Linked DNA regions of Homo sapiens: all the other regions are linked to region 5. The links come from fine-mapping of genetic effects on gene expression. A gene starts in region 5. Each other region holds a variant in brackets. All regions are shown on one strand. Distances are between the middles of the regions.

Evidence for each region. PIP is the estimated chance that this variant, and not a neighbour inherited with it, causes the effect.
Region 1: its variant is the best candidate, but not a certain one, in a credible set for the expression of TBCD in tibial artery (GTEx, PIP 0.62).
Region 2: its variant is the best candidate, but not a certain one, in a credible set for the expression of TBCD in fibroblasts (GTEx, PIP 0.68).
Region 3: its variant is the best candidate, but not a certain one, in a credible set for the expression of TBCD in whole blood (INTERVAL, PIP 0.58).
Region 4: its variant is the best candidate, but not a certain one, in a credible set for the expression of TBCD in whole blood (TOPMed, PIP 0.70).
Region 6: its variant is the best candidate, but not a certain one, in a credible set for the expression of TBCD in whole blood (TwinsUK, PIP 0.66).
Region 7: its variant is the best candidate, but not a certain one, in a credible set for the expression of TBCD in monocytes (BLUEPRINT, PIP 0.75).

Annotation. Positions count from the first base shown.
Region 1 is chr17:82,918,596-82,922,982 of GRCh38, forward strand. It overlaps TBCD (tubulin folding cofactor D), which reads left to right. Exons shown (of 39, transcript NM_005993.5): 24 at 1,961-2,023; 25 at 2,906-2,982. Among named protein-coding and RNA genes, the nearest start is that of ZNF750, 81 kb to the left of the region's middle. RefSeq lists an enhancer at 1,263-2,462. The variant C/T (reference allele first, on the strand shown) is at 2,345.
Region 2 is chr17:82,955,374-82,959,760 of GRCh38, forward strand. QTGAL (queuosine-tRNA galactosyltransferase) reads right to left here. Exons shown (of 13, transcript NM_001009905.3): 9 at 1,986-2,121; 10 at 1,808-1,876; 11 at 1,322-1,396. Among named protein-coding and RNA genes, the nearest start is that of QTGAL, 94 kb to the right of the region's middle. The variant A/C (reference allele first, on the strand shown) is at 2,467.
Region 3 is chr17:82,843,255-82,847,641 of GRCh38, forward strand. The region is part of intron 13 of TBCD (tubulin folding cofactor D); the gene reads left to right. Among named protein-coding and RNA genes, the nearest start is that of ZNF750, 5.4 kb to the left of the region's middle. RefSeq lists enhancers at 1,565-2,066, 2,067-2,566. The variant G/T (reference allele first, on the strand shown) is at 2,650.
Region 4 is chr17:82,878,801-82,883,187 of GRCh38, forward strand. All of the region lies in intron 14 of TBCD (tubulin folding cofactor D), which reads left to right. Among named protein-coding and RNA genes, the nearest start is that of ZNF750, 41 kb to the left of the region's middle. RefSeq lists an enhancer at 3,885-4,387. The variant T/G (reference allele first, on the strand shown) is at 1,602.
Region 5 is chr17:82,749,933-82,754,185 of GRCh38, forward strand. It overlaps TBCD (tubulin folding cofactor D), which reads left to right and starts at 2,133. Exons shown (of 39, transcript NM_005993.5): 1 at 2,133-2,445. The coding sequence starts at 2,262. FN3K (fructosamine 3 kinase) reads left to right here. Exons shown (of 6, transcript NM_022158.4): 6 at 485-1,264. The coding sequence ends at 823. RefSeq lists silencers at 1,325-1,684, 2,375-2,694.
Region 6 is chr17:83,065,309-83,069,695 of GRCh38, forward strand. No RefSeq gene overlaps it. Among named protein-coding and RNA genes, the nearest start is that of METRNL, 12 kb to the right of the region's middle. RefSeq lists an enhancer at 4,332-4,387. The variant G/A (reference allele first, on the strand shown) is at 2,166.
Region 7 is chr17:82,893,446-82,897,797 of GRCh38, forward strand. It overlaps TBCD (tubulin folding cofactor D), which reads left to right. Exons shown (of 39, transcript NM_005993.5): 17 at 102-187. Among named protein-coding and RNA genes, the nearest start is that of ZNF750, 56 kb to the left of the region's middle. RefSeq lists a silencer at 2,358-2,617. The variant T/G (reference allele first, on the strand shown) is at 1,834.

The sequences.
Region 1 (4,387 bases), 170 kb after region 5:
CTGTGCGAGATGTGGGTACAAGCCTTTTCATGTCTACCACTGAGTCCCGTGTGCCGTTTCGTGAGAGGCTGAGGCACCGCTTCATTCCACCGCTGAGCCCCGCGTGCCGTTTCGTGAGAGGCTGAGGCACCGCTGAGCCGCGCGTGCCGTTTTTAACTTGATTATAAAATACATTTAAAGTTCACATGCAGGTGCATCTCCAAGAAAATTATTTTAAAAACTAGTTAAGACTTTCATTTCCCAGTCCTCAACACACATCAGAGCAGTACTCTGTTCAGAGCTGAAAGGATTCGCGCTGGGACAAAGGCGTGTCACTTGAGTGAGTGATGGTGTCACAGGTGCCCACGTGGAAGAAGGTAAAGTCGTATCTAAAACTAAATGTGAGAGTAACTAATAACTTACGCATAAAAACTACCATCATAAAAATCCTCGAAGAAATTTTAGGAGACGTTGTAGGACAGTGTCAGTCTCTGAAGAAAACTTCTTAGTTTAGAAATTTTCAAATCTGCGCAGAAGTAAAGAGAAGTAGTTTACGGGGGGGGCCCAGAGTCTCGCCCGGCGCTTCCTTTCTCCTCCCCTCCTCTGAGTTTAAAGAAGACCCTGAATGTCAGGTCCCAGCAGCCCCTCGCTGGGTTTTTCTAACTTGTGGTAAGAACTGGTTTTCTGGGGTTTTTTGTTTCTTTTTGTTTCCCCCCTCTTGGCATGTAATCCCCAGCTAACAGATTTTATCATAATAATTCCACAAGGTAGAAACAAAAGGAGATAATTATGTTGGGCCTTATATTGAAGAATAGACCATGTGTAGGTTGGTAGGGAAAACGGAGATTGAGAATAAACGTCTGTTCTACAGTCGAAAAGGTAAAAAGTTAATTAGTGTACAAAGACTAAATTGTAAAACTGCCTGTGACGAGGTAAAGGATCCAGTATGAAATGGGGCAGAGCAGACGTGTGGGCATTTCATGCAGAAGAGGAGCAGACTCACGTGGCCGTGGACGGTGAGGGTGCCGGCCTCACCTCGGAGGCATGGAAGTACCAGGTTACTTCACATCGAGAGGACCGTTTTCCTCTTTCCAGTCGGCTGCGGTTGGCACTGAAGAATCTTGGTGCTGACAGACACAGAGCAGGGTCTCTCGTGGAACAGGAGTTGTCTGGTCTGTTCAGTTTGATGAGTGGCAGTATCTGTGACGATGGGAAGTGTGTGTGTGGTCCCTGTCCTGTGTGCAGGGACGCCAGGTGGACCGACGGCCTCCGCATCTGTAGCACGGTCAGGCCTCCTTGTTCACGGTGACAAAAAATGGAAGGAGAGTTTAGTCCCTCAGGAGAAATAGCAAATACCATGAACAAGTGTGCAGCAGGCGTCTGCGAGTGGGTTCCGTTGTTAGGTAGAGACGGTGGGAGCTAGAGCAGTGTGTGGCCGTGGGAGCTGCTGATGCTGTCCAGTCGTCTCTGTCTCGTGCGTCCTGGCCCCCTCGTGGCTGGTCAGGGCCACGTTTCTGGTCATGGAGAGTGTGAGTGACGAGCTATGTGGGGAAGTGACAGGCATGACCTGTGGTCTGGAGCATTGCAGGTGATGGCTGTCTGTCGCTTGGGTCCTGAGTGACAGGTCTAGGAGCAGAAGCCGCTATGCTTCCCGTACAGCCTGTCACAGGGACGTCTGCAGCTCCCTGACAGGCCGGCCCGGCTTCTCTGAAGTGCACGTGGGCTCACACATGGGCCTTCTGCCACGTGGCTGGGTCTGCAGCACTTTCTTCAGGCTGCTCAGCGGAGGAGGCGTCTTGGGCTTCTCATGGTGGTTCTGAAATGGTTCTGGGATGTTTCCAGCCCTGGCAGCAGGGTAGGTTGGGCGGGTGAGGGGCAGGAGCTGGCCGCACACAACTCAGAATGTGGCAAAGGCAAGCCGCTGTGGCAGGCGCTTTTAGAAAAGTAACATTGCGTCTATCCTTTTTTTTTTTTTTTCCAGTGTGTGTTTTAATAGAAAAGTTGTCACTTTCCAAAATGCCCTTTAGAGGTGACACCGTAATTGGTAAGTGCTTTTGTTTTTAATAATAGCATTTTCTTACAGAATGACTTCAGATTAAAAGGTAAAAATGAACCTGTTAGGATGGGGGCGATAAACGATTATAGCTTAAAGGTTCAAGATATTAATCGGATACGTTGCCTTGAAGTTGTTACAAGAACCTGCTTAAATAATGGGTACCCACCGCCCTCTCCCCCCAACACAGGAGGGCCCTTCCCCGCCGTCACCTCAGTACCCCCACCTCCTCGCTTCCATGCCCAGGGCCCGGCACTCTGGGTCAGTTCTTCTCCCAGGCAGACAGTCGGGAGCTGCAGCCACCCAGGCCCT[C/T]GTGGACCAGGAGCGTGCCGGCCGCCGACACCACGGACCCTGTGGGCAGAGGCGGCTCCAGTTCCTCAGCAGCCCCCCACACTGGGCTGCCAGAGCACAGTGAAGGGAGCCCCCAGGGCTGTGGTGTCCCGGGGCTGTCTCAGCAGCCTCAGAAGTTAGGACTTTTTTTTTGTTAATTGAATAGCCTTCACATTTGTTGCTTGTGCAGGATCTAATTGAGTTAAAGATTTGGGTTTATATTGGTGGGAGCCGGGGGAGACCGTTTGAAGGAAAAGATTTAGGGGTAACAAAAGAATAAAAGTTTCCCAAAATGTGATGTATAAAAATTTACAGAATGCTGGTATTTCCCTCAATAAGAGCTTACACAATTTAACAGCCATGAGAGGAAGGGGCCTTAGACTTAACACAACGTGGAGAATGTTCACTTTGGCTTTTCCACAGATTCCTCTCAAAGGTTACCATCGACTTTAAGATTAGTATTAATAGAAGCTGTTTTTGCTGTTGTTTTTGATTTCATGGTGTTTTTGATTGCCTGGGTACGCTAACTTGATTTTTTGACAGATGGTTGGCAATGGCTGATAAATGACACTTTGAGACATCTCCATCTCATCTCAAGTCACTCCCGCCAGCAGATGAAGGTACAGTGAGCATGGGCGTTCCCGGCCGGCGCTGTGGCGGTGTTAGTGTGTTAGTCACGGATGGTGTTTGTGTTGGCGACTGTGCATCATGAGGCTGTCCCTGCAGTAGCCTGATAACTGACAAATGGGGGCATAATTCTATTTGGAATCCCGGATGGTAGCGTCTACACGGTTTATAACCAGAAAATCCAATACAGCCATTGGAATCCGAATGTTTAATTTTTTATTGCTTCTGGCTGTTTTAATTATAGTTACCTTTGAAATACTTTTTCTGCATCAATAGTAACTGTGCTCTGTTGAGTTCCGTGTCCTGTAGGATCTGAGGTTTGGAAACTCCCTTTATGATGCTCCTGTGCAGATGAGAAAACAGCACCCCAGGACCTCTGCTCGCACACATTGACCTGGTCATGTTGTGTGGGTGCCAGTGTGTGTGTGTGTCCCCGGCCACCTGCCCTCCCCTCCCGTCCTGGGGGTTACAGGTGGACTTTGGACTCACAGAGCTGTAACGCTGATCTCATTGCATAGATAAGAAACCATGGGCCCGGCGCAGTGGCGGGTGGATCACTTGAGGTCAGGAGTTCGAGGCCAGCCTGGCCAACATGGTGAAACCCCATCTCTACTAAAAATACAAAAATTAGCGGGGCGAGGTGGCGCGTGCCTGTAATCCCAGCTACTCAAGAGGCTGAGGCAGGAGAATTGCTTGAACTTGGGAGGCGAAGGTTGCAGTGAACCGAGATCACGCCATTGCACTCCAGCCTGGGTGACAAGAGCAAGACCCTGCCTCAAAAACAAAAACAAAAACAAAAACAAAAAAAACCATGGTTACCAACGTTGACTAGGTTTTGATATTGAGGATGAAGAATGGAAGTACATTTAGGTGTCTTGTAATTCTCTGACTTCCTCCATGCTTAGCATTTCTTTTTCCTTAGCATCTTCAATTTTCTTATTTTTTTTTTCTTAAGGAACTTGAACATTCTGTAGGATCCAAGTACCGTTCTACTAATTGAATTTGAATGCATCATGATCAGTGCCTCAAAATTTTATTTCAAAAGTCCATGATTAATTCACACTGGCCATGATGCTGGTGCACTTTGCCCCTGGGATTGGCACAGGTGGTGACTCGTGGAATGCAGCACCCTGTAGACGACGCACCTCCTCTGCTCATGGCCCCCACCTGCCCCGCCCCCAGTGCCTCTCCAAGGCTGCTCTGTTGGCCTCGGCTCCTGGGCTTCGGGGGAGCGGTGGAAAGAACACGTGGGTTTGGTGTTTGCCACTTGCTGGCTGTGTGGTCACGAGAGGCTCCTCCGTAGGTGGCAGAGGTGGGGGTTCGAGGAGACAGTGGCACTGAGCCCCGCACGCGGCGGGACTGGTGACTCTCTGCCCGCTCCTGCTCTGTGCAGCAATT
Region 2 (4,387 bases), 210 kb after region 5:
TAGAGAAATGCAAATCAAAACCACAATGAGATATCACTGGTCGTTAGAGAAATGCAAATCAAAACCATGATGAGATACCATCTCACACCAGTCAGAATGGCGATTTCTAAAAAATCAAGAAACAACAGATACTGGCAAGGCTGTGGAGAAGTAGGGATGCTTTTACACTGTTGGTGGGAATGTAAATTAGTTCAACCATTGTGGAAGACAGTGTGGTGATTCCTCAAGGATCTAGAGCCAGAAATGCCATTTGACCCAGCAATACCATTATTGGTATATACCCAAAAGGAATACAAATCATTCTATTATAAAGATACATGCACGCATATGTTTACTGCAGCACCATTCACAATAGCAAAGACATGGAATCAACCCAAATGCCCATCAATGATACACGGGATAAAGAAAACATGGCACATATAGCCCATGGAATACTACGCAGCCATGAAAAGGAATGAGTTCATGTCCTTTGCAGGGACATGGATGAAGCTGGAAACCATCATCCTCAGCAAACTAACACAGGAACAGAAAACCAAACACCGCATGTTCTCACTCATAAGTGGGAGTTGAACAGTGAGAACACATGGACACAGGGAGGGAAACATCACACACTGGGACCTGTTGGAGGGTGGGGGGCAAGGGGAGGGAGGGCATTAGGACAAACACCTAATGCATGCGGGGCTTAAAACCTACATGGCGGGTTGATAGGTGCAGCAAACCACCATGGCACATGTAAACCTATGTAACAAATCTTCATGTTCAGCACATGTATCCCAGAACTTAAAGTAAAATTAAAAAAAAAAACTACTCACCTCAGCCCCCCGCAGCCAGCCTGGACTCCCCACGCTTGGGGAAAAAGGCTGCATTTGGAGCCCGAGGCACCCATCACCTGCCCACCCCAGGCAAGGGTCGTTCACACTCAGGGGCTGAGGACATCCCCGATGCAGCCACCTCAGTCCACGGGAGCTGGAGGTCCTGGCCTTGGCCCCTCAGACATGGCACCGCAGGGCCTCGTGCTTTGCAAGTTTCTAACAAATGTTGGCTTTATGGGTATTTTAAGACAGAAGAGAGACCGGAATCCATCCCCCCCACACCCATGCAGGCCACCCTCTCCAGCTGCCTCCTGCCCCCAGGGCAGCGGCCACCACCCCACAGCCTGGTCTGTGGTGCTGTTGTGGACGGCTGTGGCACCTGTCCCCATGCCCACCATCGGCTGGGGTCTCATCCCAGGCCACACAGTCATTGCACAGCAGGGCGGGTTGTCCAGGTGGCAGAGCCCGGGATCCCCAAGCCCTTCCACGGCCAAGGGCCCCACACTCACCAGCTTCACGCAGATGACGAAGGGTGGCCGGGCGGCTCGGAAGTGCAGGATGGGGATTCGGGGCTTGGGTCTTTCCTGAGAGTGACAGTGGCCATCAGTCCTGCCCGAGCCTGGAGCTTGTCCCCGGAGAGACGCCCTCAGGGTGCACGCAGCCACCAAGTTGGCTCACACAGGAGCCAGGGCTTGGGCAGCAGATAACGTGCCAGGGTCACAGACTGCGGCAGGTGTTCAGAGCAGGAACCCGGCTCCCGCCACCCCCGCCTGACACCCGACTGCAGAACTGACCAGGGTGGGCTACCCCAAGGCCTAGACCCACGAGGGACAGCGGGGTTCTCCCCCCAAGAATGGGGGCTGGGCTCCCTGGAGGCCCCGAGGAGCCAGCACGGCCCAGGTGGACTCTGCCAAGGGGGAAGGCTCGGAGCAGCTGTCCCTCAGCCCCGGAGCAGGTGGTTGACCCCAAGGGTGACACCATGCGGCCCTGCACACCTGAGAGTCCTCGTGGCAATAGAAGCCTTTCCTGATCTTGTTCTCGTCCACGTCACAGAATGCCACCACCTGGGGACAAGCACAGAAGGGCAGCTCTGGACAGGCCGGGGCCAGGGCCTGTGCTGTGGGACAGTACGGGGGCAGGGCAGGCAGTGTTGGAGGGTGGCAGGATGCTCACCTTGCGCTGGCTGCCGGCAGTCAAGCTGCGGTACAGCCGGCGCCCCTGCTTGCCAGCGTTCCAGATGGTGAAGGCCGCCCAGCGGGGCAGGGCCTGCTCTTCCAGGAAGCGGACGCGGTGGGTCCAGATGGTCGTCCTGCGGTGGAGAAGAGGGTGATAGGCAGGCCGGAGGCCCCACAGATGCACACAGATGCTGACATACAGGGACATGATGTGTGCTCAGCTCACGTTGCCAGTGGAGTGGACACCTGGCCCAATGCCTAAGAGAGACTGGCTGTCCTACAGTCAGGCCACCTGCCCCAGCTGGACGTAGCCACATGCCTAGGTGGGGATCCACCCCTTCCATTAGACCCCAACAGGTGGGGACAGATGAGAAGCTGTCACTTAAGAATCTAGAAGGTTCTGGAAGGCAGAATTTCTGTAGGACGCAGAGGACTGGACTTGACCCAAGTCCAGTTTCCCAGAGAAACCTTTGTCCATA[A/C]GGACACATGCAACCATCCCATAAAATCCCAGCGTTCACACTTGGACACGACCTTCTGCCTCAGGGTCGCTGCCCCGAACCCTTCCACTCCCCTGGGAACCTGGTCTCTGTTCTCCCTCTGCTGTGACAAGTCGACCCCAGGCTGCTGTCCCGGGGGGAGCAGGCTCCTTCCCATGACCTGCTGCTCTGCCCAGCGCCCAGCCCCATCGCTGCCCGGGCCCTTCCCAGCCCCGCCCTCTCTCCTCCCACCGCAGCCCCTCCCCACGTGCCCCATCGCTGTCTGCCTGTGTGTGCCTCTCCCTCAACCCTGCTCCTGGAGCTGCCCGGGCTGAGCCCGTCTCAAAGCCCCAGGAGCTGGACGGGCCAGAAGCTAGAGGGGCAGGGGATGCAGAGGCCAACGGGGCCAGAACGGCGTGGGATGTGTCCCAGATGCTGTCCTCCCCAATGGCCGCGATGTAGCCACGCTGAAGCCCGGTACCCCACAGACCCTGCCCTGGCCGAGTCCTGGGATGCCCTCTGCTGTGTCAAGGGAGCTGTGTCCGTGGGAGTCTCCTCCGGGGTGGGGTCTGGGCCAGACACAACCAACACTGGCTGGTGACGGGCCTCCCCTGAGCAGGGCCCTCGTGGGTTCAGCCTCGGGATCGGGGCAGGATTTCGCTGTTCTACGATTCTGCTGCTGCCTCCGCCTCCCGGGATAAACTTGTGACTCCCCCCCAACCCTGTGGCACCCCCTGTTTGTAGCAGAACCCCCACAGGCAATGGGATGGGGGGGATGGGGGGACACGGGGTCCCCTCTGTCAGCTCAGGGAGCTGCAGGGCTTAGGCACTGTCAGGGAGGTCCTGCCTGGAGTCTACCTTTTCCTCCCCAACCCTCTGCAGCCACCTCAATAGTCCGGACCCCACCTGGGACACAGGGAGATGCTTATCCCAGTCAGTGACTTGGGGACACTGAAGCATGTGTGTGTGTGTGTATACTGTGTGGGGGTGTATGGTGTGTGTGTGTGTACACTGGGGGTGTATGGTGTGTGTGTGTGTGTACACTGGGGGTGTATGGTGTGTGTGTGTATACTGTGTGGGGGTGTATGGTGTGTGTGTGTGTATACTGTGTGGGGGTGTATGTGTGTGTGTGTACACTGTGGGGGTGTATGGTGTGTGTGTGTGTATACTGTGTGGGGGTGTATGGTGTGTGTGTATACTGTGGGGGTGTATGGTGTGTGTGTGTGTACACTGGGGGTGTATGGTGTGTATGTGTGGGGGTGTATGGTGTGTGTGTACACTGTGTGGGGGTGTATGTTGTGTGTGCACAGTGTGCATGTGTGGTGAGTGCATGTGTACATGAGCACGTGTACAGTGTGTGCAGGTGTTCGGAGTACATGCCTGTATGTACTGTGTGGATGTGTGTACACGCATGTGTACACGTGTGTGCAGTGAGGGCCTGTGCATGCAGTATGAGTACATGTATGCAGTGAGTGCACATGCCTGCATGTACCGTGCAGATGTGTGTACATGCAGTGTGTGTGCACGTGAGTGCGTGTGTGCAGTGAGCGTGTGCAGTGAGTACGTGTGTATACTTTCGTGCACGTATGTGTGTGCATGCTGTACATGTGGTCTGTGTGCACGTGCAGTGTGTGTGTGTGTGTGAGAACCTGGGTGAGGACAGCTCCTGCAGACGGCTGCGGGGACTTCCCCACCAGGTGACGCAGCCTCGCCGGGTTTTGGCATCTTGTCCTTAGCAGCCCGGGTGTGTTGGGTGTCTCGGGGCGGGGGGACGAGCCTGATCCTCCTCATCCACTGACATCAGCTTAGGGACCCCAGGGGGTTCACGTGACAGGAAAGCAGTCAGGGCTCCAGAAGAAAGCGGGGGGCCTCTGTGGCCGTGGGTGGCACGCGAGGTTTGGGGGGCCTCTGACACCGGCCTCCT
Region 3 (4,387 bases), 93 kb after region 5:
ACACAGCTGTCTGTGTTCCCTTCCCTTCCCCTCCCTGTCCAGCTTACTTACCCTTCCCTTCCCCTCCCCTCCCCTCCCCGTCCAGCTTACATACCCTTCCCTTCCCCTCGCCGTCCAGCTTACTTATCATTCCCTTCCCCTCCCCGTCCAGCTTATATACCCTTCCTTTCCCCTCCCCATCCAGCTTACATACCCTTCCCTTCCCCTCCCCGTCCAGCTTACTTACCCTTCCCTTCCCCTCACCATCCAGCTTACTTACCCTTCCCTTCCCCTCACCATCCAGCTTACTTACCCTTCCCTTCCCCTCCCCGTCCAGCTTACTTACCCTTCCCTTCCCCTCCCCGTCCAGCTTACTTACCCTTCCCTTCCCCTCCCCATCCAGCTTAATCGTCTTGCTGCATTTCAGGTCAGTTGCAGACATCAGTATGCTTTGCCCCAAACACTTTTCAGGCATATTCTTATTAGTTTATGATTCTTCTTTCAAAGGTAAGGTTTACATTCAGTGAAGGGCACAGGTCTTAAGAGGATCATTTAACGAGTTTTGACAAATGTGTTCTCCCATTATGGCCCCAGAGAGTTCCGTCACAGCAGTGCCACCCTTCCCCACCCAGACCGTGGCAACTGCAGGCTGATACTTTTCCACCATGGATTAGTTTTATGTGTTGTAGAATTTTATGTCAGTAGTGATTCCTGATTTTTATGGACAGCTGTTTCTCACCTGCAGGTTCTTTCCTTTATCCTCAGTAGTCTTAGTTTTCTTAACTTTATATTTCAACACTTCTGTTAAGTACTTGGTTTCTGATTTTGGTTTCCATGAGCTCTGTTTTGTTCTGAGTGTTCCTTTTGTAGCATCTCATTCTCATGCAGTACTTTCAGTAGCTTTTCTTATCTAAGGATTTTAGTGATAGCTTTCTTTTAGTGGGGAGTGGAGGAGTGGGGGTGGATGTTCTCCGTGTGTGTGTGTGTGTGTGTGTGTGTGTGTTTAAAGACCTGGGGTCTTGCTGTGTTACCCAGGCTGGACTTGAACTCCGGGTCTCAAGTGCTTCTCCTGCCTCAGCCTCCCGGGTAGCTGGGACTGCAGGAGCGCCATGCCATGCCTGGTGCCCTCCCTGCATCGTCAGTGTGGCTGCCTGCCTTCCAGGGCCTCTGCTGAGCACCTCGGAGAGTCAGCCCTGTCTCCTGCCCCAGTGCTCCTTGGGTTAGGCCTACCCTGCCCCTCCCCACAGAGTTCTCTGGTGCCACAGATCTGGAGCTTTTTAGGGACCTGTCCTGTGGATCAGGGGGAGTCTGAGTTGCCTCCCTCCAGGGGAGGGCTGGGCTTCTTGGTCTGAGGCATTTCCTGCTGTCCCTGCACTTCCAGGCTCCTCCGTGGTCCTGGTGCTGCCTTCCCTGCCCTTCCTCTTCTACCCTGTAGCTTATTTCTTGAAAAAAGAAAATGGTCCGTTTCTGCTGTTTTTAGTGGGATTTTACCCGCTATTTTTTACATGTTCAACCCCCTGTGTTACTCAGAATTCTTGCGATTAGGTTTTTGACCAAATCTTAGGAACCGTCATGGGGGTGGCAGCTGATGTTTCTTGCGTGTTGATGGTGTGGGGCACCGTGCCAGGTGCATCACCTGCACTGGTCCATTTACTCAGAAGCACCACGCACCTGGCCTGTGGAGTCCCCCCACCCACAGGTCGGGAACATGGCCGAGGTACCCAGCCCAGAGGGCGATGAGCAGAGTTACACCAGAGGTGGGGGGTGCTTCCCTGGGTGGGGAAGGAGGGGTACCTGGGGTGGTGGCTGCTCTTGGGGGTAAGCACCGGTGCCAGTGTGTGTTGGGGGGTGCCAGGGACCCAGGCAGGTGCTGGCGCCGCGGCCTCTGTGTCAGGGCCTCTTTCCCTAGGGGCACACAGGCTGGAAGTGCAGTCCTGGTTGAGCTTTCCTAGTTTCCAGGTCGGGGGTGAGGCACAGGACATGGCCGGCTCGGCCCCTTCCTCTCCATCCTGTCCAGCTCAGCCCCTTCCTGTCCATCTTGTGCGGCCCAGCCCCTTCCTCTCCGTCCATCCTGTCCGGCCTGGCCCCTTCCTCTCTGTCCTGTCTGGCCTGGCCCCTTCCTCTCTGTCCATCCTGTCTGGCTCGGCCCCTTCCTCTCCGTCCTGTCCAGCTTGGCCCCTTCCTCTCCATCTTGTCCGGCCCGGCCCCTTCCTCTCCATCTCGTCTGGCCCGGCCCCTTCCTCTCCGTCTGTCCTGTCCGGCCCGGCCCCTTCCTCTCCGTCCTGTCCAGCTCAGCCCCTTCCTGTCCATCTTGTGTGGCCCAGCCCCTTCCTCTCCGTCTGTCCTGTCTGGCCTGGCCCCTTGCTCTCCCTCCGTCCTGTCCGGCTCAGCCCTTTCCTCTCCGTCCTGCCCAGCCCACCCCGGTCCCTTCCGCAGCAGCATCCTCTCCAGTGCACTGTGTGCTGGGACTCAAGTCTTGGCTCTTCCATCTTCACCCTTTGTGACTTGGGGCAGCAATTGCTGACCTCCCTGGGCCTCGGTCTTCCTGTCCGTGAAAGGGACTTGTGAGCATCTCTCACAGAACACCTGTGATGAAGGAAGGGCGTCACATCTTGGATCTTCTTAAAATACAAGATTGTTTCTGTTTTAATCCTTTGTGTTCCTTGTGAG[G/T]TGCTGCATCCAGAGGAAAGGAGAAAGGAAATGAAAACTCTGCGGAAAATCCACAGGCCTGGCATCAGCCTCCCAGTCTGATTTTGACGCGGCTGTAGGGGAGACACAGCAACATTCTATCCCCCGAGGGCACAGCTTCAGGAACGGCTCCGGGCCGGAGGGCACCTCTCGCCTGGCTGTGTTGTGTCTCAGGGCTCTGCGCTTCTAAAGGGACTCAGGCCAGTGGGCAGAACTGTGGGATGGGACTGGGAGGCTTAGGGGGTGAGGGTGTAAGCCCTGTGCCTCCCTCCACGTGCTGCGTCCGGCATGCCACGTCCCCTCGTCCAGCCCTCTGCTGCCCCCTCCACGCGCTGCGTCCTCTGTGCTGTGTCCTCTTGTCCAGCCCTCTGCTGCCCCCTCCACGTGCTGCGTCCAGCGTGCCGTGTCCTCTCGTCCAGCCCTCTGCTGCCCCCTCCATGCGCTGTGTCCCATGTGCCGTGTCCTCTCGTCCAGCCCTCTGCTGCCCGCTGCTCTCTTTGGGACTTCCATTGTTTCCCCTTCCCCTTCCTTTCCTGGTTTTCTTCCCTAGTGAGGTGCCCTTCCTGCTGCTGCAGGGCCCTGCTGTGGCCTCTGCCTTCCGTCCCTGGCGGTAGTGAGACTGGCTGAGACCCAGGGGAAGCTTGGAGACTGTCCTAGATTTCGGAGATGGTGGTACACAGGCTTGCTGGCTTGGGTTAGGGCTCTAGGCCCTGCCTTCGGGTTGTCTGGAAGCCGCCAGCCAGGCCTGGACACCTCTCTGCCCCCGTCACCTCGGAGCAGCAGCCCAGGAGCGGGTCACAGCCCTTCCCCTGTGTTACATGGTCACCTGCCTGAGAACCCCTGCAGGCCCCTGTGTTTTGGGAAGTTGATTTAACTGAACAGAGCGCAGCTGAGAAGGGGCGCCTCCCTCCCCACCCACCCTCATTGCCTGGGACCGCGTGTCCAGGAGCCGGGCCTCGGGTGTCTGGTCTCTGGGCCACACAGGCTAACATGGCCAAGCCCAGCTGCACCCCCGGGGTCCTCACCCGCCATGTGCCTGTGGTCGTGGCCAAGGTCTGGGCCCAACCTGCTCTGGGCGCTGTGGGCACCGCTCAGCCATTTTCTACAGGTGGCCGAGGAGACATTTGGTTTCTCATTAAAAAGAAACAGGCCGGGCGTGGTGGCTCACGCCTGTAATCCCAGCACTTTGGGAGGCCAAGGTGGGCGGATCATGAGGTCAGGAGATCGAGACCATCTTGTCTAACACAGTGAAACCCCGTCTCTACTAAAAATACACAAAAAATTAGCTGGGCGTGGTGGTGGGTGCCTGTAATCCCAACTACTCGGGAGGCTGAGGCAGGAGAATGGTGTGAACCTGGGAGGCGGAGCTTGCAGTGAGCCGAGATCATGCCACTGTATTCCAGCCTGGGCAACAGAGCGAGACTCCATGTCAAAGAAAAAAAAAAAAAAAAAAAAAAAGAAACAACCCTGAGAACATCAGTGGGGTTTTACTGACTGTGTCAGACAACTCAGCGATGCAGAGAAATGAAAGTGGAGTTGATTTGGCTCTTGTGGTGAGATACAGCCAAGGTGTATGAGAGAATTTGGGGAAAGCTTTCTTTCTGGACATTTGTTGACGTTGATGAGTAGTGGAGGGCTTTATTTGTAAGTTGAAGTCTGAGATTTGTCATGCCAATACCTAAATTTTAATTTGTTTGTACAAATAACGCCACAATTTAAT
Region 4 (4,387 bases), 130 kb after region 5:
GTCCCCACCCCGACGTTCAGTGATTGCAGCTTGTTCTTAAGGAAGGCTCGTTCCTCTCCCAGCTTTATTTCATCATTCGCTCCTGCCAGTGTGGACTCATGGGTGCTCATCCTGTTTGGGGGTTATCATCTAACACTATTGTTACTAGTTTTGTTTGAGTTATAATCTAACACTAACTATTGTTATTAATGTTGCTCAAATTGCTCCAGCTTTGGCCACTTCAGGTTGGCTTCTGTGTCCTTTCAGCAAGATCCTGTTCTTTTTTTTTTTTTTTTTTTTCTTTTTTCCTGAGCCTTTTTTCTTTCCTTCTGGCACCACAAGATGCACCTGGCTTATCTTTTTGCCCCTGCCCCAGCCCTAGCATCCACCACTTCCCAGGAGTCTCACATCCTCTCGGTGGAGAACAGTATTTGGAATCCAGGACGCCGGGCTTGGCCTCAGCTGCCTCTAGGTCCCCTCCCTCTGTAGCTGAGTGTGTGCCCCTCTTCACAGTCCATGTTTGCACAGACACCAGCTCTAGCCCAGCTTCCTCCTGGCCTCCCTTCGTGTGCCGCTTCTGGGCCTACTGTGTAGCACGCTCTGCTGCCGTGCGTCTGCCGTCATGCATCTGACGTGATTTTGGAGCTGCCAGCCCACACCTGTGTGAGCAACAGACTCACCACTCAGGGTGGGACGCTCTGTGCATCCTCCTCACCCTGGGCATAGCGTTGCCAGGCCATCGCTCGGGTGAGCCCTTCTGGTGCTGCTGGTCTGGGATGCAGACAAGTCTGCCGGTTCCCTCTGTGCTGGTCCGGGATGCAGACACGTCTGCCGCTTCCCTCTGTGCTGGGCTCCCCAGGTCTGTGATTGTTGCTTCTTCAATCTGCATGTGGTTGTGTTCTACAACTCAAGCACCAAACAGGACAGTCCGTCTCCCCCAAAAACTCCCCAGTCTGCTCCCCAACCCTGGGCCAACATTGGTCTGATTTTGGTCCTGATAGTTTACCATTTCTGGAGTGTCTTATAAACGGAAATAATCAGTAGGCTTTTCATTCTGGCTTCGTTGACTTGGCACAGTGCCCTTAAGACTCATCCCAGTGATCTTTCCTTTTTTTTTTTGGAGTGGTGTATTGTTGGACGGACCTGGCGGTCACAGGCCTACCTGTCTCCTTGGGTGTCTCCAGTCCTTTCTGGAGGCTCAGGGGGGCTCAAGGGAAGACTCTGCTTCCCTGCTTGAGTTGCCCGCATTCCTTTGCTCATGGGCTCTTCATCTACCTTCACAGCCAGCCACGTCCACGTCTCGCTTCATCCTTCACGTACCCTATGCCTGTGGTCCTTTCTTCTGCCTCCTGTGTCTGTCCTTCCTTCTTCCTTCCTGTATGTATTTATCTCCTTACCTGTCTACTTATCAGTCTGTCTAGATGGGGTCTCGCTGTGTTGCCCAGACTGTACTCAAATTCCTGGGCTCAAGGGATCCTCCTGCCTCTGCCTCCCACAGACAGATGGAGCACAGGTGTAGCCAGGGCCGCTGGTGTGTACCACTGTGTTCGGCACCCGCTGGGCTGCAGGAGTAATCCAGGGCCCTCTCCCCATCTTAGGGTCAACTGATTGCCAACCTTAAT[T/G]CCCCTTTGTCAGGTAAAGGAACATGTTTGAAGTGGGACACCCTTATCTTTGGGAGTGGGTATTATTCTGCTGAAGACAAGGGTGGGGACAGATATGCTGTGACCAGGGTAGTTGGGCTTATGACTTTGTTGTTGTTTACGTGGAGGAACTGAAAGACCTGGGTGTGCTGCTGGATGCCCCAAGGATCTGGCAGGAGGAGGCATCCAGGCCCTCAGGGCAGGTAGCGGGTGGGCCTCCGTGGTGTTGGGAGGTGCTGGGCCCGGAGGTATCAGCAGGAACTGCAGGGTCCCTACCGCAGGCTCCCCACACAGTGACACCTGTCTGTCCGTCCGTCTGTCCACAGGAGCAGGAGGGGCTGGGCGGGGAGGACGCAGGGTCTGTCGGAGCATAGCAGTGGCCCGTACGTGAGGGACTTTGTTGTTGCCGTCTCCCCAGGGTGCAGAGCGTGGTGGTTTGTGGCCATCCTTGCAGTGTGAGTGAGCAAGTGGCCGAGGGGTAGACTTTGGATGGCTCCAGGCGGAACTCGGGGAAGGAGGCCGTGTACTCCCATAGCTCTGGGCTCTGTTTGTGGCTGTGGCCACACAGGGCAGGGCCTCAGGGCAGGGAGGCCAGTGCTTTTGGGAAGGGCCTCCCCCAGCCCTCAGAAGCCTCCCACCCTATTCCCCTTGGGCTCCATCCTTCTGTTTTTTTTCTGGCTCTGGTTCCTGGCGTCTGTTTGCAAGGCTGGCTGGACACTGCAACCACCTGGGCTTGCTGCTGTGGCCTGGACGCTGGGGTCTCTCTCGGCCCGGTGGTGAGCTGAGAAGCGGCCCTGTGGTAGAAGAGGGCCTTTCCACGCTGAGACCACAGATTGTCCCTGCAATAAGCAAACATTTCTCTAAAATGTGAGATAAACGCTTTATCCACTGGTGATCCGTGGTTGTTAGTAATTAAACCAAGTAAACGGTAGCTCATTCGGTCAGGCCGCTTGCCGCCGATGAGGGGTGCAGAGCTTCTGCAGCATCCTGGGGAGGTCCCGGAACGTGGGTCTGGGCTGTGCTGATGCTGGAGCAGCCAGCGGGGAGAGCTGCCAGGCCACTCCTGACAGCCCCGCACCCGCTCTGGATGGAAGCTTCTCGCTCCCAGCCGATACGGGCCTGCTGCCTGCTGCTGGGGCTGGAGGGGCCCCTCTGCTTGAGCCTTGGGGTACCCCGTGCCTACGTGCCCTCCTGGCTTTGCCCATGGTTGGTGGCCGTGTTTTGGGCTGCGTTGATGTCGTTGTGGAGCCCGCTCTGGGCCTCGGCACGTCTGAGCTTGATTGGGGTGGAAAATGCACCTGGTGGTTTGTATTATGTTGTTTCTGTTTTATTTAATTTCATTTGCCATTCTTATTTCAAAAGATGCTTCCTATGTTTATGCTATATTGTTAGTTTAACTTCCTACCCTTTCCATCTATGAATTTCTGTTTTTATTGTGGTTCTCAGTGACCACACTCTAGGGGTCCTTTCTCTCTCTCTCTGTCTCTCCCCCCTCTCCCCTCCTCCCTTCCTCCCTCCCTCCCTCCTAGGCAGAGCCTGTGAGACTTGCAGGCATTTCCCCAGAACCCAGGCCCTCTTGGCCATCTGGCTGCTGCCCCACCCAACCTTTGGCCTCTCCTGGGGCTCCTGGATGGTTGGGCGTCCCAAATCCCCATCAGCAGAGCACTTGGTCACAAGGCCCGAGTCACATGCCCCAGCTTCTCCGAGGAAGTGCAGAGTCCAGCCGCAGGGAGGACTTTCTCAACCGGCCCTGGGGCCAGCTGTCCTGCTCCTCCTTGTTTGCTGTGGGCTCACCTCTGTGGGCTGCTCACTCAGACCCACTCGCACCCATGGGACCTTCCCACCTGTTTCTCCTGCCTCCTTCAGTCTGTGCCCAGCACCCCGCTGTCAAGCCCATTCCCCCCCAGCCCCTGACGTTGGACATGCTGGAGGAGACTGTGGCCCTGTGGCGTGTTCTGGGCCATCTCCAGGGCCTGGAGCGGGCACCTGTGCCCAGCACTGGAGGCTGGGGGACAAGTGCTCTCTCTGATAAATGCCCCCGAGTTTCAGTTCTGTGGCTGTAGTTTGTAGGTCTCCTAGCTCAGCATCCCCGAGCCCATGCCCTGGGGACTCATGGGGCCGAGGAGAGAGGAGCGCAGAGAACATGAGGATACGTGAGCCCCTTGCCTGAGAGGTGTGCTGTGAACCTGGAGAGCAAGGCCAGTGGGTCTGGGGTGACAGACAGTGCGAGATGCAGGAAAACAGGCTCGAGATGCTGTGAATCTGGAGAACAAGTGGGCCTGGGTCTGGGGCAACAGACAGCGTGAGACACAGGAGAACAGGCGGGATGCTGTGAAACCGGAGAGCAAGGCCAGTGGGTCTGGGTCTGGGTCTGGGGCGACAGACAGTGCGAGACACAGGAGAACAGACGGGATGTCATGTGCATTGTGGCTGGCAGGGCCGGCGCCTCACACACACGCCCCGGAAGTCAGGATGTGGTGCTGACGGTGTCCGCGCTGCCAGGCTGGAGCGGGTGACGGTGCCTGCGCTGCCAGGCTGGAGCGGGTGACGGTGCCCGCCCTACCGGGCTGGAGCGGAGCTTGCTCTCTCTGCAGTGGGACCTGCTCACTTTTCCTTAGCTGGATGTATCTTTCACATTTAGCTTAACAGCAGAGCTGGTGAGAGGACGCACACCTGGCGTCACCATTGTCCCCCGTGCATGTCCCCGGCGTCCTTCATGTTGACGCGGGCCCCGCCCCACGGCTCAGGTCTGTCAACTTCCCTGGAAC
Region 5 (4,253 bases):
CTGTAATCCCAGCTACTCAGTAGGCTGAGGCAGGAGAATCACTTGAATCCGGGAGGCGGAGGTTGCAGTGAGCCGAGATGGCGCCACTGCACTCCAGCCTGGGTGACAGAGCAAGATTCCCTCTCAAAGAAAAAAACAACAAAACCAAACAAAACCTGCAGACATATATGTGTAGCGAAATAAAAGTGGCCAGAGTTTGCTAAGGTAGCGCAACACTGGTTCCTATTCTGTGGGTCGATTAAAACTATAACCTCAGAGGTTCTCCACTGTGTGGGGATTCTAGACCTAAATTAGGAGGAAATCCTAAGTTAGACAAAGCTAGACTCCCCTGAAGTCAGGTGGCCCCTATTTCTGGGCTTGGCAGGCAGTGCTGGGGCTGGACACCGAAGCAGATCGCGAGTGGGCTTTGCCTTATTTCCAAGAACGAGGTGATGAGACCGGGGCTCCCAGAGGCCAGCGATAACTGCAGCCGTTGCTCTCGTAGGTGAAGATCCCGGATCTGTTTTGTGGCCTAGAGATTGTCCCCGCGTTGCTCCACGGGGATCTCTGGTCGGGAAACGTGGCTGAGGACGACGTGGGGCCCATTATTTACGACCCGGCTTCCTTCTATGGCCATTCCGAGTTTGAACTGGCAATCGCCTTGATGTTTGGGGGGTTCCCCAGATCCTTCTTCACCGCCTACCACCGGAAGATCCCCAAGGCTCCGGGCTTCGACCAGCGGCTGCTGCTCTACCAGCTGTTTAACTACCTGAACCACTGGAACCACTTCGGGCGGGAGTACAGGAGCCCTTCCTTGGGCACCATGCGAAGGCTGCTCAAGTAGCGGCCCCTGCCCTCCCTTCCCCTGTCCCCGTCCCCGTCTCCGTCTCCCCGTCCCTGTCCCCCCGTCCCCCGTCCCTGTGCCCCCGTCCCTGTCCCCCTGTTCCCGTCTCCCCGTCCCTCCGTCTCCATCCCCCCGTCCCCCCATCCTCCTGTCCCCGTCCCCCCGTCCCCGTCCCTCCATCCCTGTCCCCCGTCCCCCTGTCCCCCTGTCCACATACCAATCCCCCTGTCCCCGACCCCCCATCCCCGTCCCCCATCTCCGTCCCCGTCCCCCCTGCCCCGTCCCCGTCTCCGTTCCCCCGTCCCCATCCTCCATCCCCGTCTCCCATCGCCGTCCCCCCGTCCCCGTCCCCCGTCCCCGTCCCCCCTGTCCCTGTCCCCCTTCCCCCGACCCCTCCCAGATCCTGGGGACCAATAAAGCCCGCAGCGGGTCTCGGCTGGCGTCCTGCGCCTCGTTCCTCCGCTCGTGGGGCTGCTTTCAGGGCCAGACGCACGGCGAGCTGTGCACGGACGTTTTTGCGGCGATTCAGGGGAAACGCACGCGGACCCGGTAGCCAAGGCCAAAGTCGGCGCAGCGCCCACCGCGGCCTCCGGGCCCCGCTCCCGCTCCCGCTCTGGGGCGCGCCACCACTCGGCGCGGGGCCCGTGTGATCCGCGCGGGTCCCAGCGTGGCGCGAATAAGTGTCAGGGCGGTTGGCTCTGAGGGGTGGGTCCCGGGGCTCGCCTCGCGCCCCCGACTGCGTGCTCAGGCCCCGCCCCTCCCCGTCCACGCATGCTGAGGCTCCGCCCCGCTCCGCGGTCCCCCGGTCCCACCCGCCCCCGCCCCGCCCCCGCCCCGCCCCCCGGCGTGTTGTGGCTCCGCCCCGCTGTCTCCGGCCCCACCGCAAGCCCTGCCCCTCCCACCCACGCGTGCCCGGGCCCCGCCCCCGTTGCGCGCAGCCCCGCCCCCTATCGCGTGCTCAAGCCCCGCCCTGGCGGCCCCCGGCCCCATCCCGAAGCCCCGCCCCCCCGCACACCGCCTGCTCAGGCTCCGCCCCGCTGTCCTCCGGCGGCGGCCTCACCCCGCAGCCCGGCCCACCGCGTCTCAGGCCCCACCTCCTGTCCTGCCCCGCCCACCGCGTGCTCAGGCCCCGCTGAGCGGTCCCGGCTCCGCTCGCGCCCTGTGGGGTCCACGGCGCGCTCTTCCAGAGCCTTTGGGACCCGTGCCCGCTCGCGTCCTCAAGTGCACGCGCCGTCCCGCGCGCGGTATTTTGGCGGCCGACGCGTTCCGTAGCGAGGCCGGCGAGTGGGGTCGGAGGTCGCGGGGCGGGGCCAGCGTCGGTTGCCGCCTTAGCGGGCGCCTCCTTTTCATCCCTCATCCTTCATCCCTGGCTTTCGCGCTCTAGCGGAGTGGGATCTGCGAACACGTGAGGCGGGGGCGCGGTCCCCAGGCTGCCGAGATGGCCCTGAGCGACGAACCGGCCGCGGGCGGCCCCGAGGAGGAGGCGGAGGACGAGACACTGGCCTTTGGCGCGGCGCTGGAAGCGTTCGGCGAGAGCGCGGAGACCCGGGCGCTGCTGGGCCGCCTGCGGGAGGTGCACGGCGGCGGCGCGGAGCGCGAGGTGGCCCTGGAGCGGTTCCGCGGTGCGTGGGCGGCGCCGCGTGCCCGCTTCCTCCCCCGGCCCGGGTTCGGCGCGCTGAGTGCACTTTACCGGGCGGGGACCGCAGCCCGGCGGCGCCGGCCGCTCTGCGAGGGCTGCCGGTGCGCGGTCCCGCGGGCCGTGGTGGGGCGCGGCCTTCCTAGGCGGGAGAGGGCCACCCCGGCGCGGCGTTAGGTGCACGGGGCAGACGCGCGCCTCCCTTGGGGGGACCGTGGCCCGCGGAGCGCCTGCTCTCGCACGGGGTGAAGCCTCTGCGGCCTCCCCGGGAGGCGGGGTGCAGAAGCCCTCCGTCCCCCGTCTCCGTCACTGGAGGAGGTCCCTGGGCTGGGGAGACTCGGGCCAGACCCCTCCGGACAGCTGGTCAGCCCTGCAGTGTGGACTCCCAGGCTTGCCTCCACCGAGCGCGGTTTCTGTGAATGTTGTGTGGACAGGGAGATAGGGAATGAGAGAGGGGGACGCAGGGAACAAACCTGCTGCAAACAAAGCGCGCCTCGGGTGGGGAGGGCAGCAGCCTGTCCGTTCCGTGGACGCCGTGGACAGAGCGGGCTGGCCGGGTCCGTGCCTCTGCAGGCGGGGTGGGGTGTAGGTACCCCTGTGGAGGCCATTCGATGAGTCTAAATTCTCCGAGTTCAGACCCACCTTTACCGCTGTCTATAATGGGTTATTTCCAAACAAGTCCTTAGGAGCTCATAGCTAAGTAGTTACATGGGGTTTTGTAATTCAGTAAAATCATCTTTGTAGACCCTTTGAGTAAGAAGAACTTTTGCATTATTTGGCCTTCCTCATTTTAGAATGACAGCGCTTTGATTTTAGGAGTCAGGCAGGGTGGGGGGCCTTGTGGGAGGAGTGCGGGTTCGGCGTCAGATCCTCCTGCCTGTGAATTCTGGCCCTGTCGCTTGGACCTGATACTTGATTGCCTGTTTCTTCGGGTGTAAGCTGGGGCGGATAACGATGCCTCTCGTGCAGAACTGTTCTGAGGGTGAGGGACCCTCATCCAGGGACCAGTGAAGCCAGATTTTTTGTTCCTGGTGTAACAGCCCAATGGCTTCTTCCTTTTTTTTTTTTTTTTTTTTTTGATACGAAGTCTTGCTCTGTTGCCCAGGCTGGAGTGCAGTGCAGTGGTGCGATCTTGGCTCACTGCAACCTCAACCTCTCAGGTTCAAGCTATTCTCCTGTCTTAGCCTCCCGAGTAGCTGGGGCTACAGGCGCGCGCCACCACGCCCGGCTAATTTTGTATTTTTAGTAGAGGGGGTTTCACCATGTTGGTCAGGCTGGTCTCAAACTCCTGACCTCAAGTGGTCGCCCGACTCAGCCTCCCAAAGTGTTGAGATTACAGGTGTGAGCCACTGCGCTCGGCCCCAGTGGGTTCTTTCTGCGGGCTGCCCAGATAGAGTTGATTTGTCAGGGCAGGGGAGTTGCCATGGAGAAGATTTAGTTCACGCAGAGCCGGTTGAAAGGGAGACTAGACTAGAGGTTTTTTTTTTTTTTTTTGAGGCGGAGTCTCACTTTGTCCCCCAGGGTGGAGTGCAGTGATGAGATCTCAGCTCACTGCAACCTCCACAACCTCCACCTCCCAGGTTCAAGTGATTCTCCTGCCTCAGCCTCCCGAGTAGCTGGGACTACAGGTGCGCGCCACCACGCCCACCTAATTTTTCGTATTATTAGTAGTGACGGGTTTCATCGTGTTAGCCAGGATGGTCTCGATCTCCTGACCTCGTGATCCACCCGCCTCAGCCTCCCAAAGTGAGCCACCACGCCCGGCTGGAGTTTTATTATTACTCAGATCAGTCT
Region 6 (4,387 bases), 320 kb after region 5:
CGTGCAGCCCGCAGCCTGGGCCTGGGCACAGCCGGCTTTATCAGCAGCTCCATCCCAGCCCCACAGACAGGGGAAGAAAAGGTTGGGGGCTGGGCAGACAAGACCATCCAGGGCCCCGGCTGGTCACCCAGGCTGAAACGGAACACATCTGTTTCTCTACACTCTAAACACTTTGCACCAAATGTGCGGGATTTTCACACCAAGCAACTTTCCAGTTCTCAGTGGACACCAACGGGGTGTCCCACGATTCAGTTCGACTCTCACACTACCTGCAGGTAGCGCAGACCCCGCAGGCTGGGGCTCCGTCCCACAAGCTGCCCCTCTGCAGGCGACCGTCCCAAGTATCGGGTGCCCAGGGTTCACACGCCTCCGTCTGACTTGGCTACAAAGTTGGGGGTTGCCACGACTCCTCCCCAGGCTTGATAATTTGCTCTAAGTCTCACAGGACTCAGGGAAAAACTCATTTACGTTCACTGATTCACTATAAAAGATGTAATAAAGGATACAGATGGACAACCAGATAACAAGGTGCACAGGGCGGGGTCCAGGAAGGACCCAAGTGCAGGAGTTTCTGTCCACCCCCCACACTCCCATGCGTTCCCCAGTCCAGAAGCTCCCGGATTCTATCTGTTAAAGGGTTTAATGGAAGCCGGCAGGCATGACCAATGGATCGTTATTCAATCTCAGCCCTTCTCCCCTCCCTGGAGGCCGGTGGGACTGAAAGTTCCAAGCTTCTAATTGATGTTTGGTCTTCCCGGTGAGCGTACCCCATCCTGAAGCTGTCTAGGGGCCCCCAAGAGTCACCTCCTTGAACAAAAAAACGCTCCTAGCACCCAGGAAATACCAAGCGATTTCGGAGCTGGTGTGGGGAACCAGGGCAGAGGCCAAATGTATATTTCTTATTCTGTTACCTGGTGCCTGGAGGCCCTGGCCACTTTCGGGTTGGCCGACCTTCGGGAAGTTTCCTGGTCCCGAACGTCTCGGGTCACTGTGGGGTAACGAGGCTCTCGGACCCTCGCCATCTGTCATCGTCATCGCCGCCGCAGGCTGGCCTTCCCTGAAGAGCTCCAGATCGCAGACACCGTGCCGTGCCCGCCACGCAGATGCAGTTTCCACTCAGCCCCACAGTGCGGGCTTCCTGGGCCCGTGTCCGGCTGGAGGAGCACCCCGGGTCCGAGCCAGCCATCCCCTCAAGAGTCCTGCGCCCTGGAGGACACCCCAAATGCCACCCCTGCTGTTACCTCCTGCAGGTTTCAGGATACTCTTACGTCGTTCTCTGTGTTCATCCGCATTTTCTGTCATGAAAGTGAATTTCTTTTGTCATAAGAAACTGTGTTTCTCAGCCTCAGGCTGCCTCACCGGGCTTCACCATGGGCGCGGCTGCCCGCCCCCTGCACACTCACTGTGCGTCCTGGAGGGACAGTGCGTGTTCTCACCCGGGGCCACGGCTTCACCCTGGGCACGGCTGCCCGCCCTCTGCACCCTCACCCTGAGTCCTGGAGGGACAGTGCGTGTTCTCACCCGGGGCCACGGCTTCACCCTGGGCACGGCTGCCCGCCCCCTGCACACTCACTGTGCGTCCTGGAGGGACAGTGCGTGTTCTCACCCGGGGCCACAGCTTCACCCTGGGCACGGCTGCCCGCCCTCTGCACCCTCACCCTGAGTCCTGGAGGGACAGTGCGTGTTCTCACCCGGGGCCACGGCTTCACCCTGGGCACGGCTGCCCGCCCTCTGCACCCTCACCCTGAGTCCTGGAGGGACGGTGCATGTTCTTACCTGGGGCCACGCAGGGCCTCTCAGGGAAGGCTGTGGCAAGACAGACACTCTTCTCAAGGCAGGTCTGGGTGCCTGGGGACTACCCCCTAGGGACCCGAGAGACCCGCTGGGTAGGATCCGGCCCCCTGTCTGCCGCGCGGCCTCCGGGAGAGAGCTGGCCTCTCCGCGTCTGTTTTCTGCCTGTGAAGGAGGCGATGGTGAAGATACCAGCTGTGGGTTTCAAGGGGAGGTGACACCTGCGCTCTGGTGGCCATGGTGTGGACACGGACCCATTGTCTGTTTCCTTTGCGGGATTCCACGCTGGGCTCCTGTTGGCAAGAGGAAGGTCCTGAGGAACTGCGGGGGGAGGCTCGGCCTCGCCTGCCCAGGTGGTGTGGGTGCCTGCGCCT[G/A]GGGGAGAGCCTGGGGTTCTCTCGGGACCCGCCTCTCCTCCCAAGGCCATTTCCATGCACTGGACACTGCAGGCCCTGAGGCATCAGGTCTCGCTGGCTTTGCTGGCCGTCCGGAGCTCTGGCCTAGGTGCGGAGTCCTGGGGGTCCTGGGGAACCCACCTGAAGCCCCCCCTCGTGGCCCCTGTGGCAACACTGACCGGGCCTGACCTGTCCCCTCGTGTCACACTGACCGGGCCTGACCTGTCCCCTTGTGTCACACTCATCTTACACTGTGCTTTATCTTGTTACCCTGCAGGCATTCACCTCAACCCCTCCCGTCCCCTCTGGGATGAGCCGGGCCACAGATAAAGGCCTCTTAGCGGAGCTACGAAAAGGATCACTTTAGCCCTTCTGGGAAGGAGGGATTTAGGTTAAGTCAGCTCAGCTTAGATTCCAAAAGACTAGGACGGTCAGCCCAGGACCCAGGCATTTGGGTGACACAAGTGCTTTCCGGCCGGGAGAGCCACAGGCTGTGCAGGGAAAACTCAGTTGCTTTTGCTTTCTGAAGTTCAGGGCTTCCAGCTGGACGTTTTTGGAAGTGCGGGAAACACATGAGGTTTCGCTAAAGGAATGAAGCCTGAGCCTCCACGGGGATGAGAATGACCCAAGAACCTCCCGAAATCCCACCTGCAGGAGGCGACAGCGGGGGCGACAGCGGGGGTCCCGGGAGGCGACAGCGGGGGGCGGCAGCGGGGGTCCCGGGAGGCGACAGCGGGGGCGGCAGCGGGGGTCCCGGGAGGCGACAGCGGGGGTGACAACGGGGGTCCCGGGAGGCGACAGCGGCGGTGACAACGGGGGTCCCGGGAGGCGACAGCGGGGGCGGCAACGGGGGTCCCGGGAGGCGACAGCGGCGGTGACAACGGGGGTCCCGGGAGGCGACAGCGGCGGTGACAACGGGGGTCCCGGGAGGCGACAGCGGGGGCGGCAACGGGGGTCCCGGGAGGCGACAGCGGGGGTGACAACGGGGGTCCCGGGAGGCGACAGCGGCGGTGACAACGGGGGTCCCGGGAGGCGACAGCGGGGGCGGCAACGGGGGTCCCGGGAGGCGACAGCGGGGGTGACAACGGGGGTCCCGGGAGGCGACAGCGGCGGTGACAACGGGGGTCCCGGGAGGCGACAGCGGGGGCGACAGCGGGGGTCCCGGGAGGCGACAGCGGGGGCGGCAGCGGGGGTCCCGGGAGGCGACAGCGGGGGGCGACAATGGGGGTCCCGGGAGGCGACAGCGGGGGGCGACAATGGGGGTCCCGGGAGGCGACAGCGGGGGGCGACAACGGGGGTCCCGGGAGGCGACAGCGGGGGCGACAATGGGGGTCCCGGGAGGCGACAGCGGGGGGCGGCAGCGGGGGTCCCGGGAGGCGACAGCGGGGGCGACAATGGGGGTGTCCTCCCAGGGTGGGATCCGTGGGGGTTGCAGGTTGGAACTCGGGTGCTCCCCCCATGGCACGCGGGCCCAGTAAGCCCAGCCGTGGGGGCTGCCGTGGTGGAAATCGCATCTGCATGTGAGGACAGCAGGACCCAGCACCTTCCCGCGGTGACCCCAAGAGGCAGGGCTGGCGGCCGCCCTGCCAGAGTCCCCCTCCGGACCTAGAGGAGGCATCTCCCTAATTTCACCTTTTTCAGTAGAAAAACATCCCCGAGGTTCACCTAAAACCCCAATTTTTCAGGAAATGGTTGAGGCTGCTTATCATTTGTGGAAATCACGTGTGCACAAGTAGAGAGAATGCAGCGGGGTGGGGACAAAATGAAACCCAGAGAACTTGGCAGGTCCGCACACAGGCCTGACCCCTGTGCTCCTAGGGGTGCCCGGGATGGGTGCCGTCGTCAGCCCCATGACGAGGGTGACTGGGTCAGGTGTCAACCCCCACGGGCAGGGCTCTGTGCCCACCACCCCATGCTGTCGGAGCAGCCCGAAGGTGGCCAGCGCTGAACATGGGGTCCCACCCCATCCTCTCTGAGAGCCGGGCTGGGCCGGGTGGGGGCTGGCAGGGTCTGGCTGTTCTCAAACAGGTCCTTTCTCAGAAGGTGCTAGAAACTGTGTCCCTCACCAAAAGCTAACATGGGTGCCAGAGCTGGGACAAGGGCCAGTCCTTCCCCAACCTGCTGGGTCTCCCACACGCTTCCACATGCTCCCACACACTTCCACATGCTCCCACACGCTCCCACATGCGCACACACGCTCCCAC
Region 7 (4,352 bases), 140 kb after region 5:
GTTCATGAGTGTAAATGTCTGTGGATGTGATTATTGAACTTGGTGAAATGCCTTTGTTCATTCAAATTCTTCTTTTTCCCCCATTTCCACTTTCTTATTAGGGCACTTTCCCTCATGGTATTGATATTTTGACCACAGCTGACTATTTTGCCGTCGGTAACAGATCCAACTGTTTCCTGGTTATAAGGTAAGTCTTTAATGTATATCACAAAAATAGAATACTCTAAAATCAGATTGGATGTCAGAAATCAGCTACCACCATTTTCTTTTTTCATCCTGTAATGTCCACTCAATGGAATGTAGTTTTTGTGTGAAAAATTAAAAATGGAATTGGGAACAGTGACTGAAACTTGTGTTTCATGTTGATTGGACACACCTCATGCTTTACTACGCTAGATAGGGGACATTTACTCACGTGTTAAAGAGGGGCTCAGCTTCAGGAGTGCGGCCTTGCCGTGAGTGCTGTCTCTGCTTATGATTTTTCTCCTGGTCGCCCCGTTTTACCCGTGCTGGTTCTGTGTGGGGCTTGGAGTTTGAGAGGAAGCAGCTGCAAGCACGGCCACACCTCCTCCTGATGCTTCCCTACTGGATGTCCTAAATGCTTTCCCACCGTGAAATCTTGGATTAGAAGGGACTGTTTCTTTCTGTTTCGGTAATAGGAAGTGTTTTGAAGTTGAAGTTATCTGTAGATTGTCTATGAAATGAGTAAGAGGTATTTTAGAAATCAGGTTAGAAACAAATGTTTAGCACCTCTAATTGCAGTTTACAGAATTATATCAAACTGTTTTAGTTGTGTAATTAGGTACTGGGGAGGTTACTTCAGTTATCTTAGTTGATCCATTGCAGCAGAAATGTGAAAAAGGGTGTGACTTTATTTATTTATTTTTGGAGACAGAATCTAGCTCTGTTGCCCAGGCTGGAGTGCAGTGGGGTGTGACTTTATGAAGTGATTTATTTGCCTTAAATTAGGACCAGAAGCATGCCCGATGCATTTTTAACATTAACCATTAAATACCCTAAAGATCGATTCCCCAACAGCCCTGCTGTGTAGACCGTGCAGAAAGGACGTTTCTCCGTCACCAGCCTGGGCAGAATTTTGAAAATGTAGCATTTGGCCTCTTTCCCAGGAAGGATCTTTGAACACACTTATCTGTATTTTTATACCCTTTCAGGTTTCCTCAACATTTAATGTCCTTTTTTGCCTTATCAGTTCTTTCCTATTAATACTTGGCCATATATTTTATGTGGAAAATCTACTGGCCCGATGCAGTGGCTCATGCCTGTAATCCCAGCACTCTGGGAGGCCAAGACGGGCAGATCACCTGAGGTCAGGAGTTGGAGACCAGCCTGGTGAAACCCCGTGAATACTAAAAATACAAAAATTAGCCAGGCGTGGTGGCGGGTGCCTGTAATCCCAGCTACTCAGGAGGCTGAGGCAGGAGAATCACTTGAGCCCGGGAAGCGGAGGCTGCAGTGAGCCGAGATCGTGCCACTGCACTCCAGCCTGGGTGACAGAGTGAGACTCCATCTAAAGAAAAAGACAATCTACCACCTTTTCCCGAGTTTCCTGAGTAACACACCTGACAGCTATGGGAAGCTTCAGCATATTTCCCTTGTTGCTGAGGTTTCTAAGCCAGCCTAAAACTCGCATGTAATTAGCTGTGTGCGTTTTATAAAAACATTTGCCAACCCAAGACCTGGGTCCAGGCATGTCTTCCCCCAGTGTGTTTGGCTTCCTCACGATGCCAGGCCCTGCGTGCAGACCAGATGCCACTTGTGAGGACGCACCGGCAGGCAGGCCCCTCCAATCCTGAGGGCGGCATCACGGGGACC[T/G]GCAGTCATGGCTGCACCCTAGTACCGCGGGGCCCCCCTGCACCCGAGGCAGGGTCCTGCTGTCAGCCTGGACCTTGGGGTGAGGGAGGCAGTGGTCCTGTTCAGCAGAGGGCATGGGACTGAGCACAGCCCATCAGGGAGGAGAGTTAGCAGGGCCCTGGGCCCTGGCGGGGAGCTGCTGGGGGCCTTTGAGCCATAGTGAAGAGTGTGGATTGTCCTGAGGTCATGGCACTTTGATGGTCAGGTCTTTGTTTTGAACATATCCCTGTGGCTGTATTTGGTGACTGGAAATAAGGAGAGGGCTTGAGGGCTCTTGGGAGACGGGAGAGGGCTGGGGGCCTGGAGGTGTGCCCGCTGGAGGAAGGTGGGAGTTGCCAGGGCATTACAGAGGGTCTCAGAGCTGTGTTGGCATCACTCCGCAGGTGGAGGGCACAGCTGAGGGCGACAGTGTCGTTGAGTGCGAGGAGGTTGGGGCCTCAGCTTGCACGTGCTGGCCTGCGAGGAAGCATCAGCCGTGCTGACATGGAGATGTTTCCTCTGCAAATTGGAGTTTCGGACACACAGACTGGAATTGAACTAACGGGCACCCCAGGAAGACTGTGGGGCGAGACGAGGAGGATGGGGGGACCAGCCGTCGCCCCACTCTCCTGTTCATCATCACAGCCTCGTTGGGGTGTAAACGACCCCCAGTAAGCTGGTGCATGTTCAATAGGTACATTTTTGTAAATGTTAACATCTGTAAATTCGTACCTATCACCACAATCAAGACGAGAAAAGGCCCAGGTTTCCCCTTTCCCATTCGGGGTCCCTCCCCTCCCACACCCCCTTCTTCAGGCACCCCTGGTCTGTTGCTCTCACTGCAGCTGTGTCTGCATTTCCCAAAGCTCTGTGTGAATGGGTTCAGGCAGTGGGCACTCTCCTCACTCACACTGGCTTCCTCTGCTCCATGCTTCCTGCAGACTGTCCGCCTGTGGGGACCGTCCCCCGAGCCTCCAGGGCCAGGGGTGTGGTACGTGGCGTCTGTCTCCACTCACCTGGTGAGGGGCTTCTGGGCAGTGTCTTGTCTGGGTTGTCACAGGTGCAGCTGCGGTGAACATGTGTGTACACATCTGTCTTTGGGCCTGCACTCTTGTTCTCTGGCATAGATGCCCAGAGCTGGGTGGCTGTGCTGTCAGTTTTTTTTTTTTTTTTTTTTTTTTCCTTTTGAGACAGAGCCTTGCTCTGTCACCCAGGCTGGAGTGTGGTGGCGCAATCGCGGCTCCCTGCAGCCTCGACCTCTTGAGTTCAAGCGATCCTCCCACCTCAGCCTCCCGAGTAGCTGGGACTACAGGCACACGCCACCACGCCCGGCTAATTTTTGTATTTTTCTGTGGAGATGACAAATCATGTTGCCCAGGGTGGTCTTGAACCCCTGGTCTCAAGTGATCCACCTGCCTTGGCCTCCCAAAATGCTGGCCTTGCAGGTGTGAGCCACCACACCCTGCCTGTAGCTTTTTCTGAAATGGCCACATGGCTTTCGGCGTGATGGTGCCACGCGCCCCCGGTGCTGGATGAGCTCGGGGTCCGGGATCTGGGGTCCTTGCCGGCGCTGGGGGTGTTGGTCTTTCAAGCTCGGGGTCCGGGATCTGGGGTCCGTGCTGGTGCTGGGGTGTTGGTCTTTCAAGCTTGGCCATTGTCATGGGGGTGTGGGAGCAGCTGACTAACTCGTGTTCTAGTGACTGATGATGCAGTTTCAGTCATCATCCATTTCAGGGGCGTGTTTAACACATCTTTCGCCCATTTACTTATTAGGTTAGTCGTTTTCTTCCTGTTGAGAATTTGAGAATTCTTCATGAATTCTGCATACAATTCCTTTTTCAGATGCTTCCTTGCTACATATTTCCTCCTGCTCCGTGGCTTTCCCTTTCAGTATCCTGTATATTCCTAAGTCAAAGCCTTTTTAAAAAAAAATCAGCTTTGGGCCGGGTGCGGTGGCTCACACCTGTAATGCCAGCACTTTGGGAGACCCAGGCAGGCAGATCACGAGGTCAAGAGATCGAGACCATCCTGGCCAACATGGTGAAACCCCGTCTCTACCAAAAATGCAAAAATTAGTCGGGCATGGTGGCGCACCCCTGTAATCCCAGCTACTCGGGAGGCTGAGGCAGGAGAATCACTTGATCCCGGGAGGCGGAGGTTACAGTGAGCCGAAATCGCGCCACTGCACTCCAGCCTGGGCAGCAGAATGAGACTCCGTCTCAAAAAAAAAAAAAAAAATCAGCTTTATCTTTGTACATCTACTTTATTACATATAGTTTACATATAGTAAAATTGCCAGTTTTCAATATGGGTTTAAGTGTGGCAGCGGGTTTGGCAGATGTGAGCTGTTGAATGACCACCACTGTGGTCAGTGTGGTGCACATGACCCTCCCTCCAGGAGGCGCCATCCTGACTGACCTCCTGTCGCTGGGGCTCCCCCGTTTTAGAATCCGTGCAGGTAGCTTCCTTCATCTGCTGCCTGCCTCATCAGCTGCCTGTGT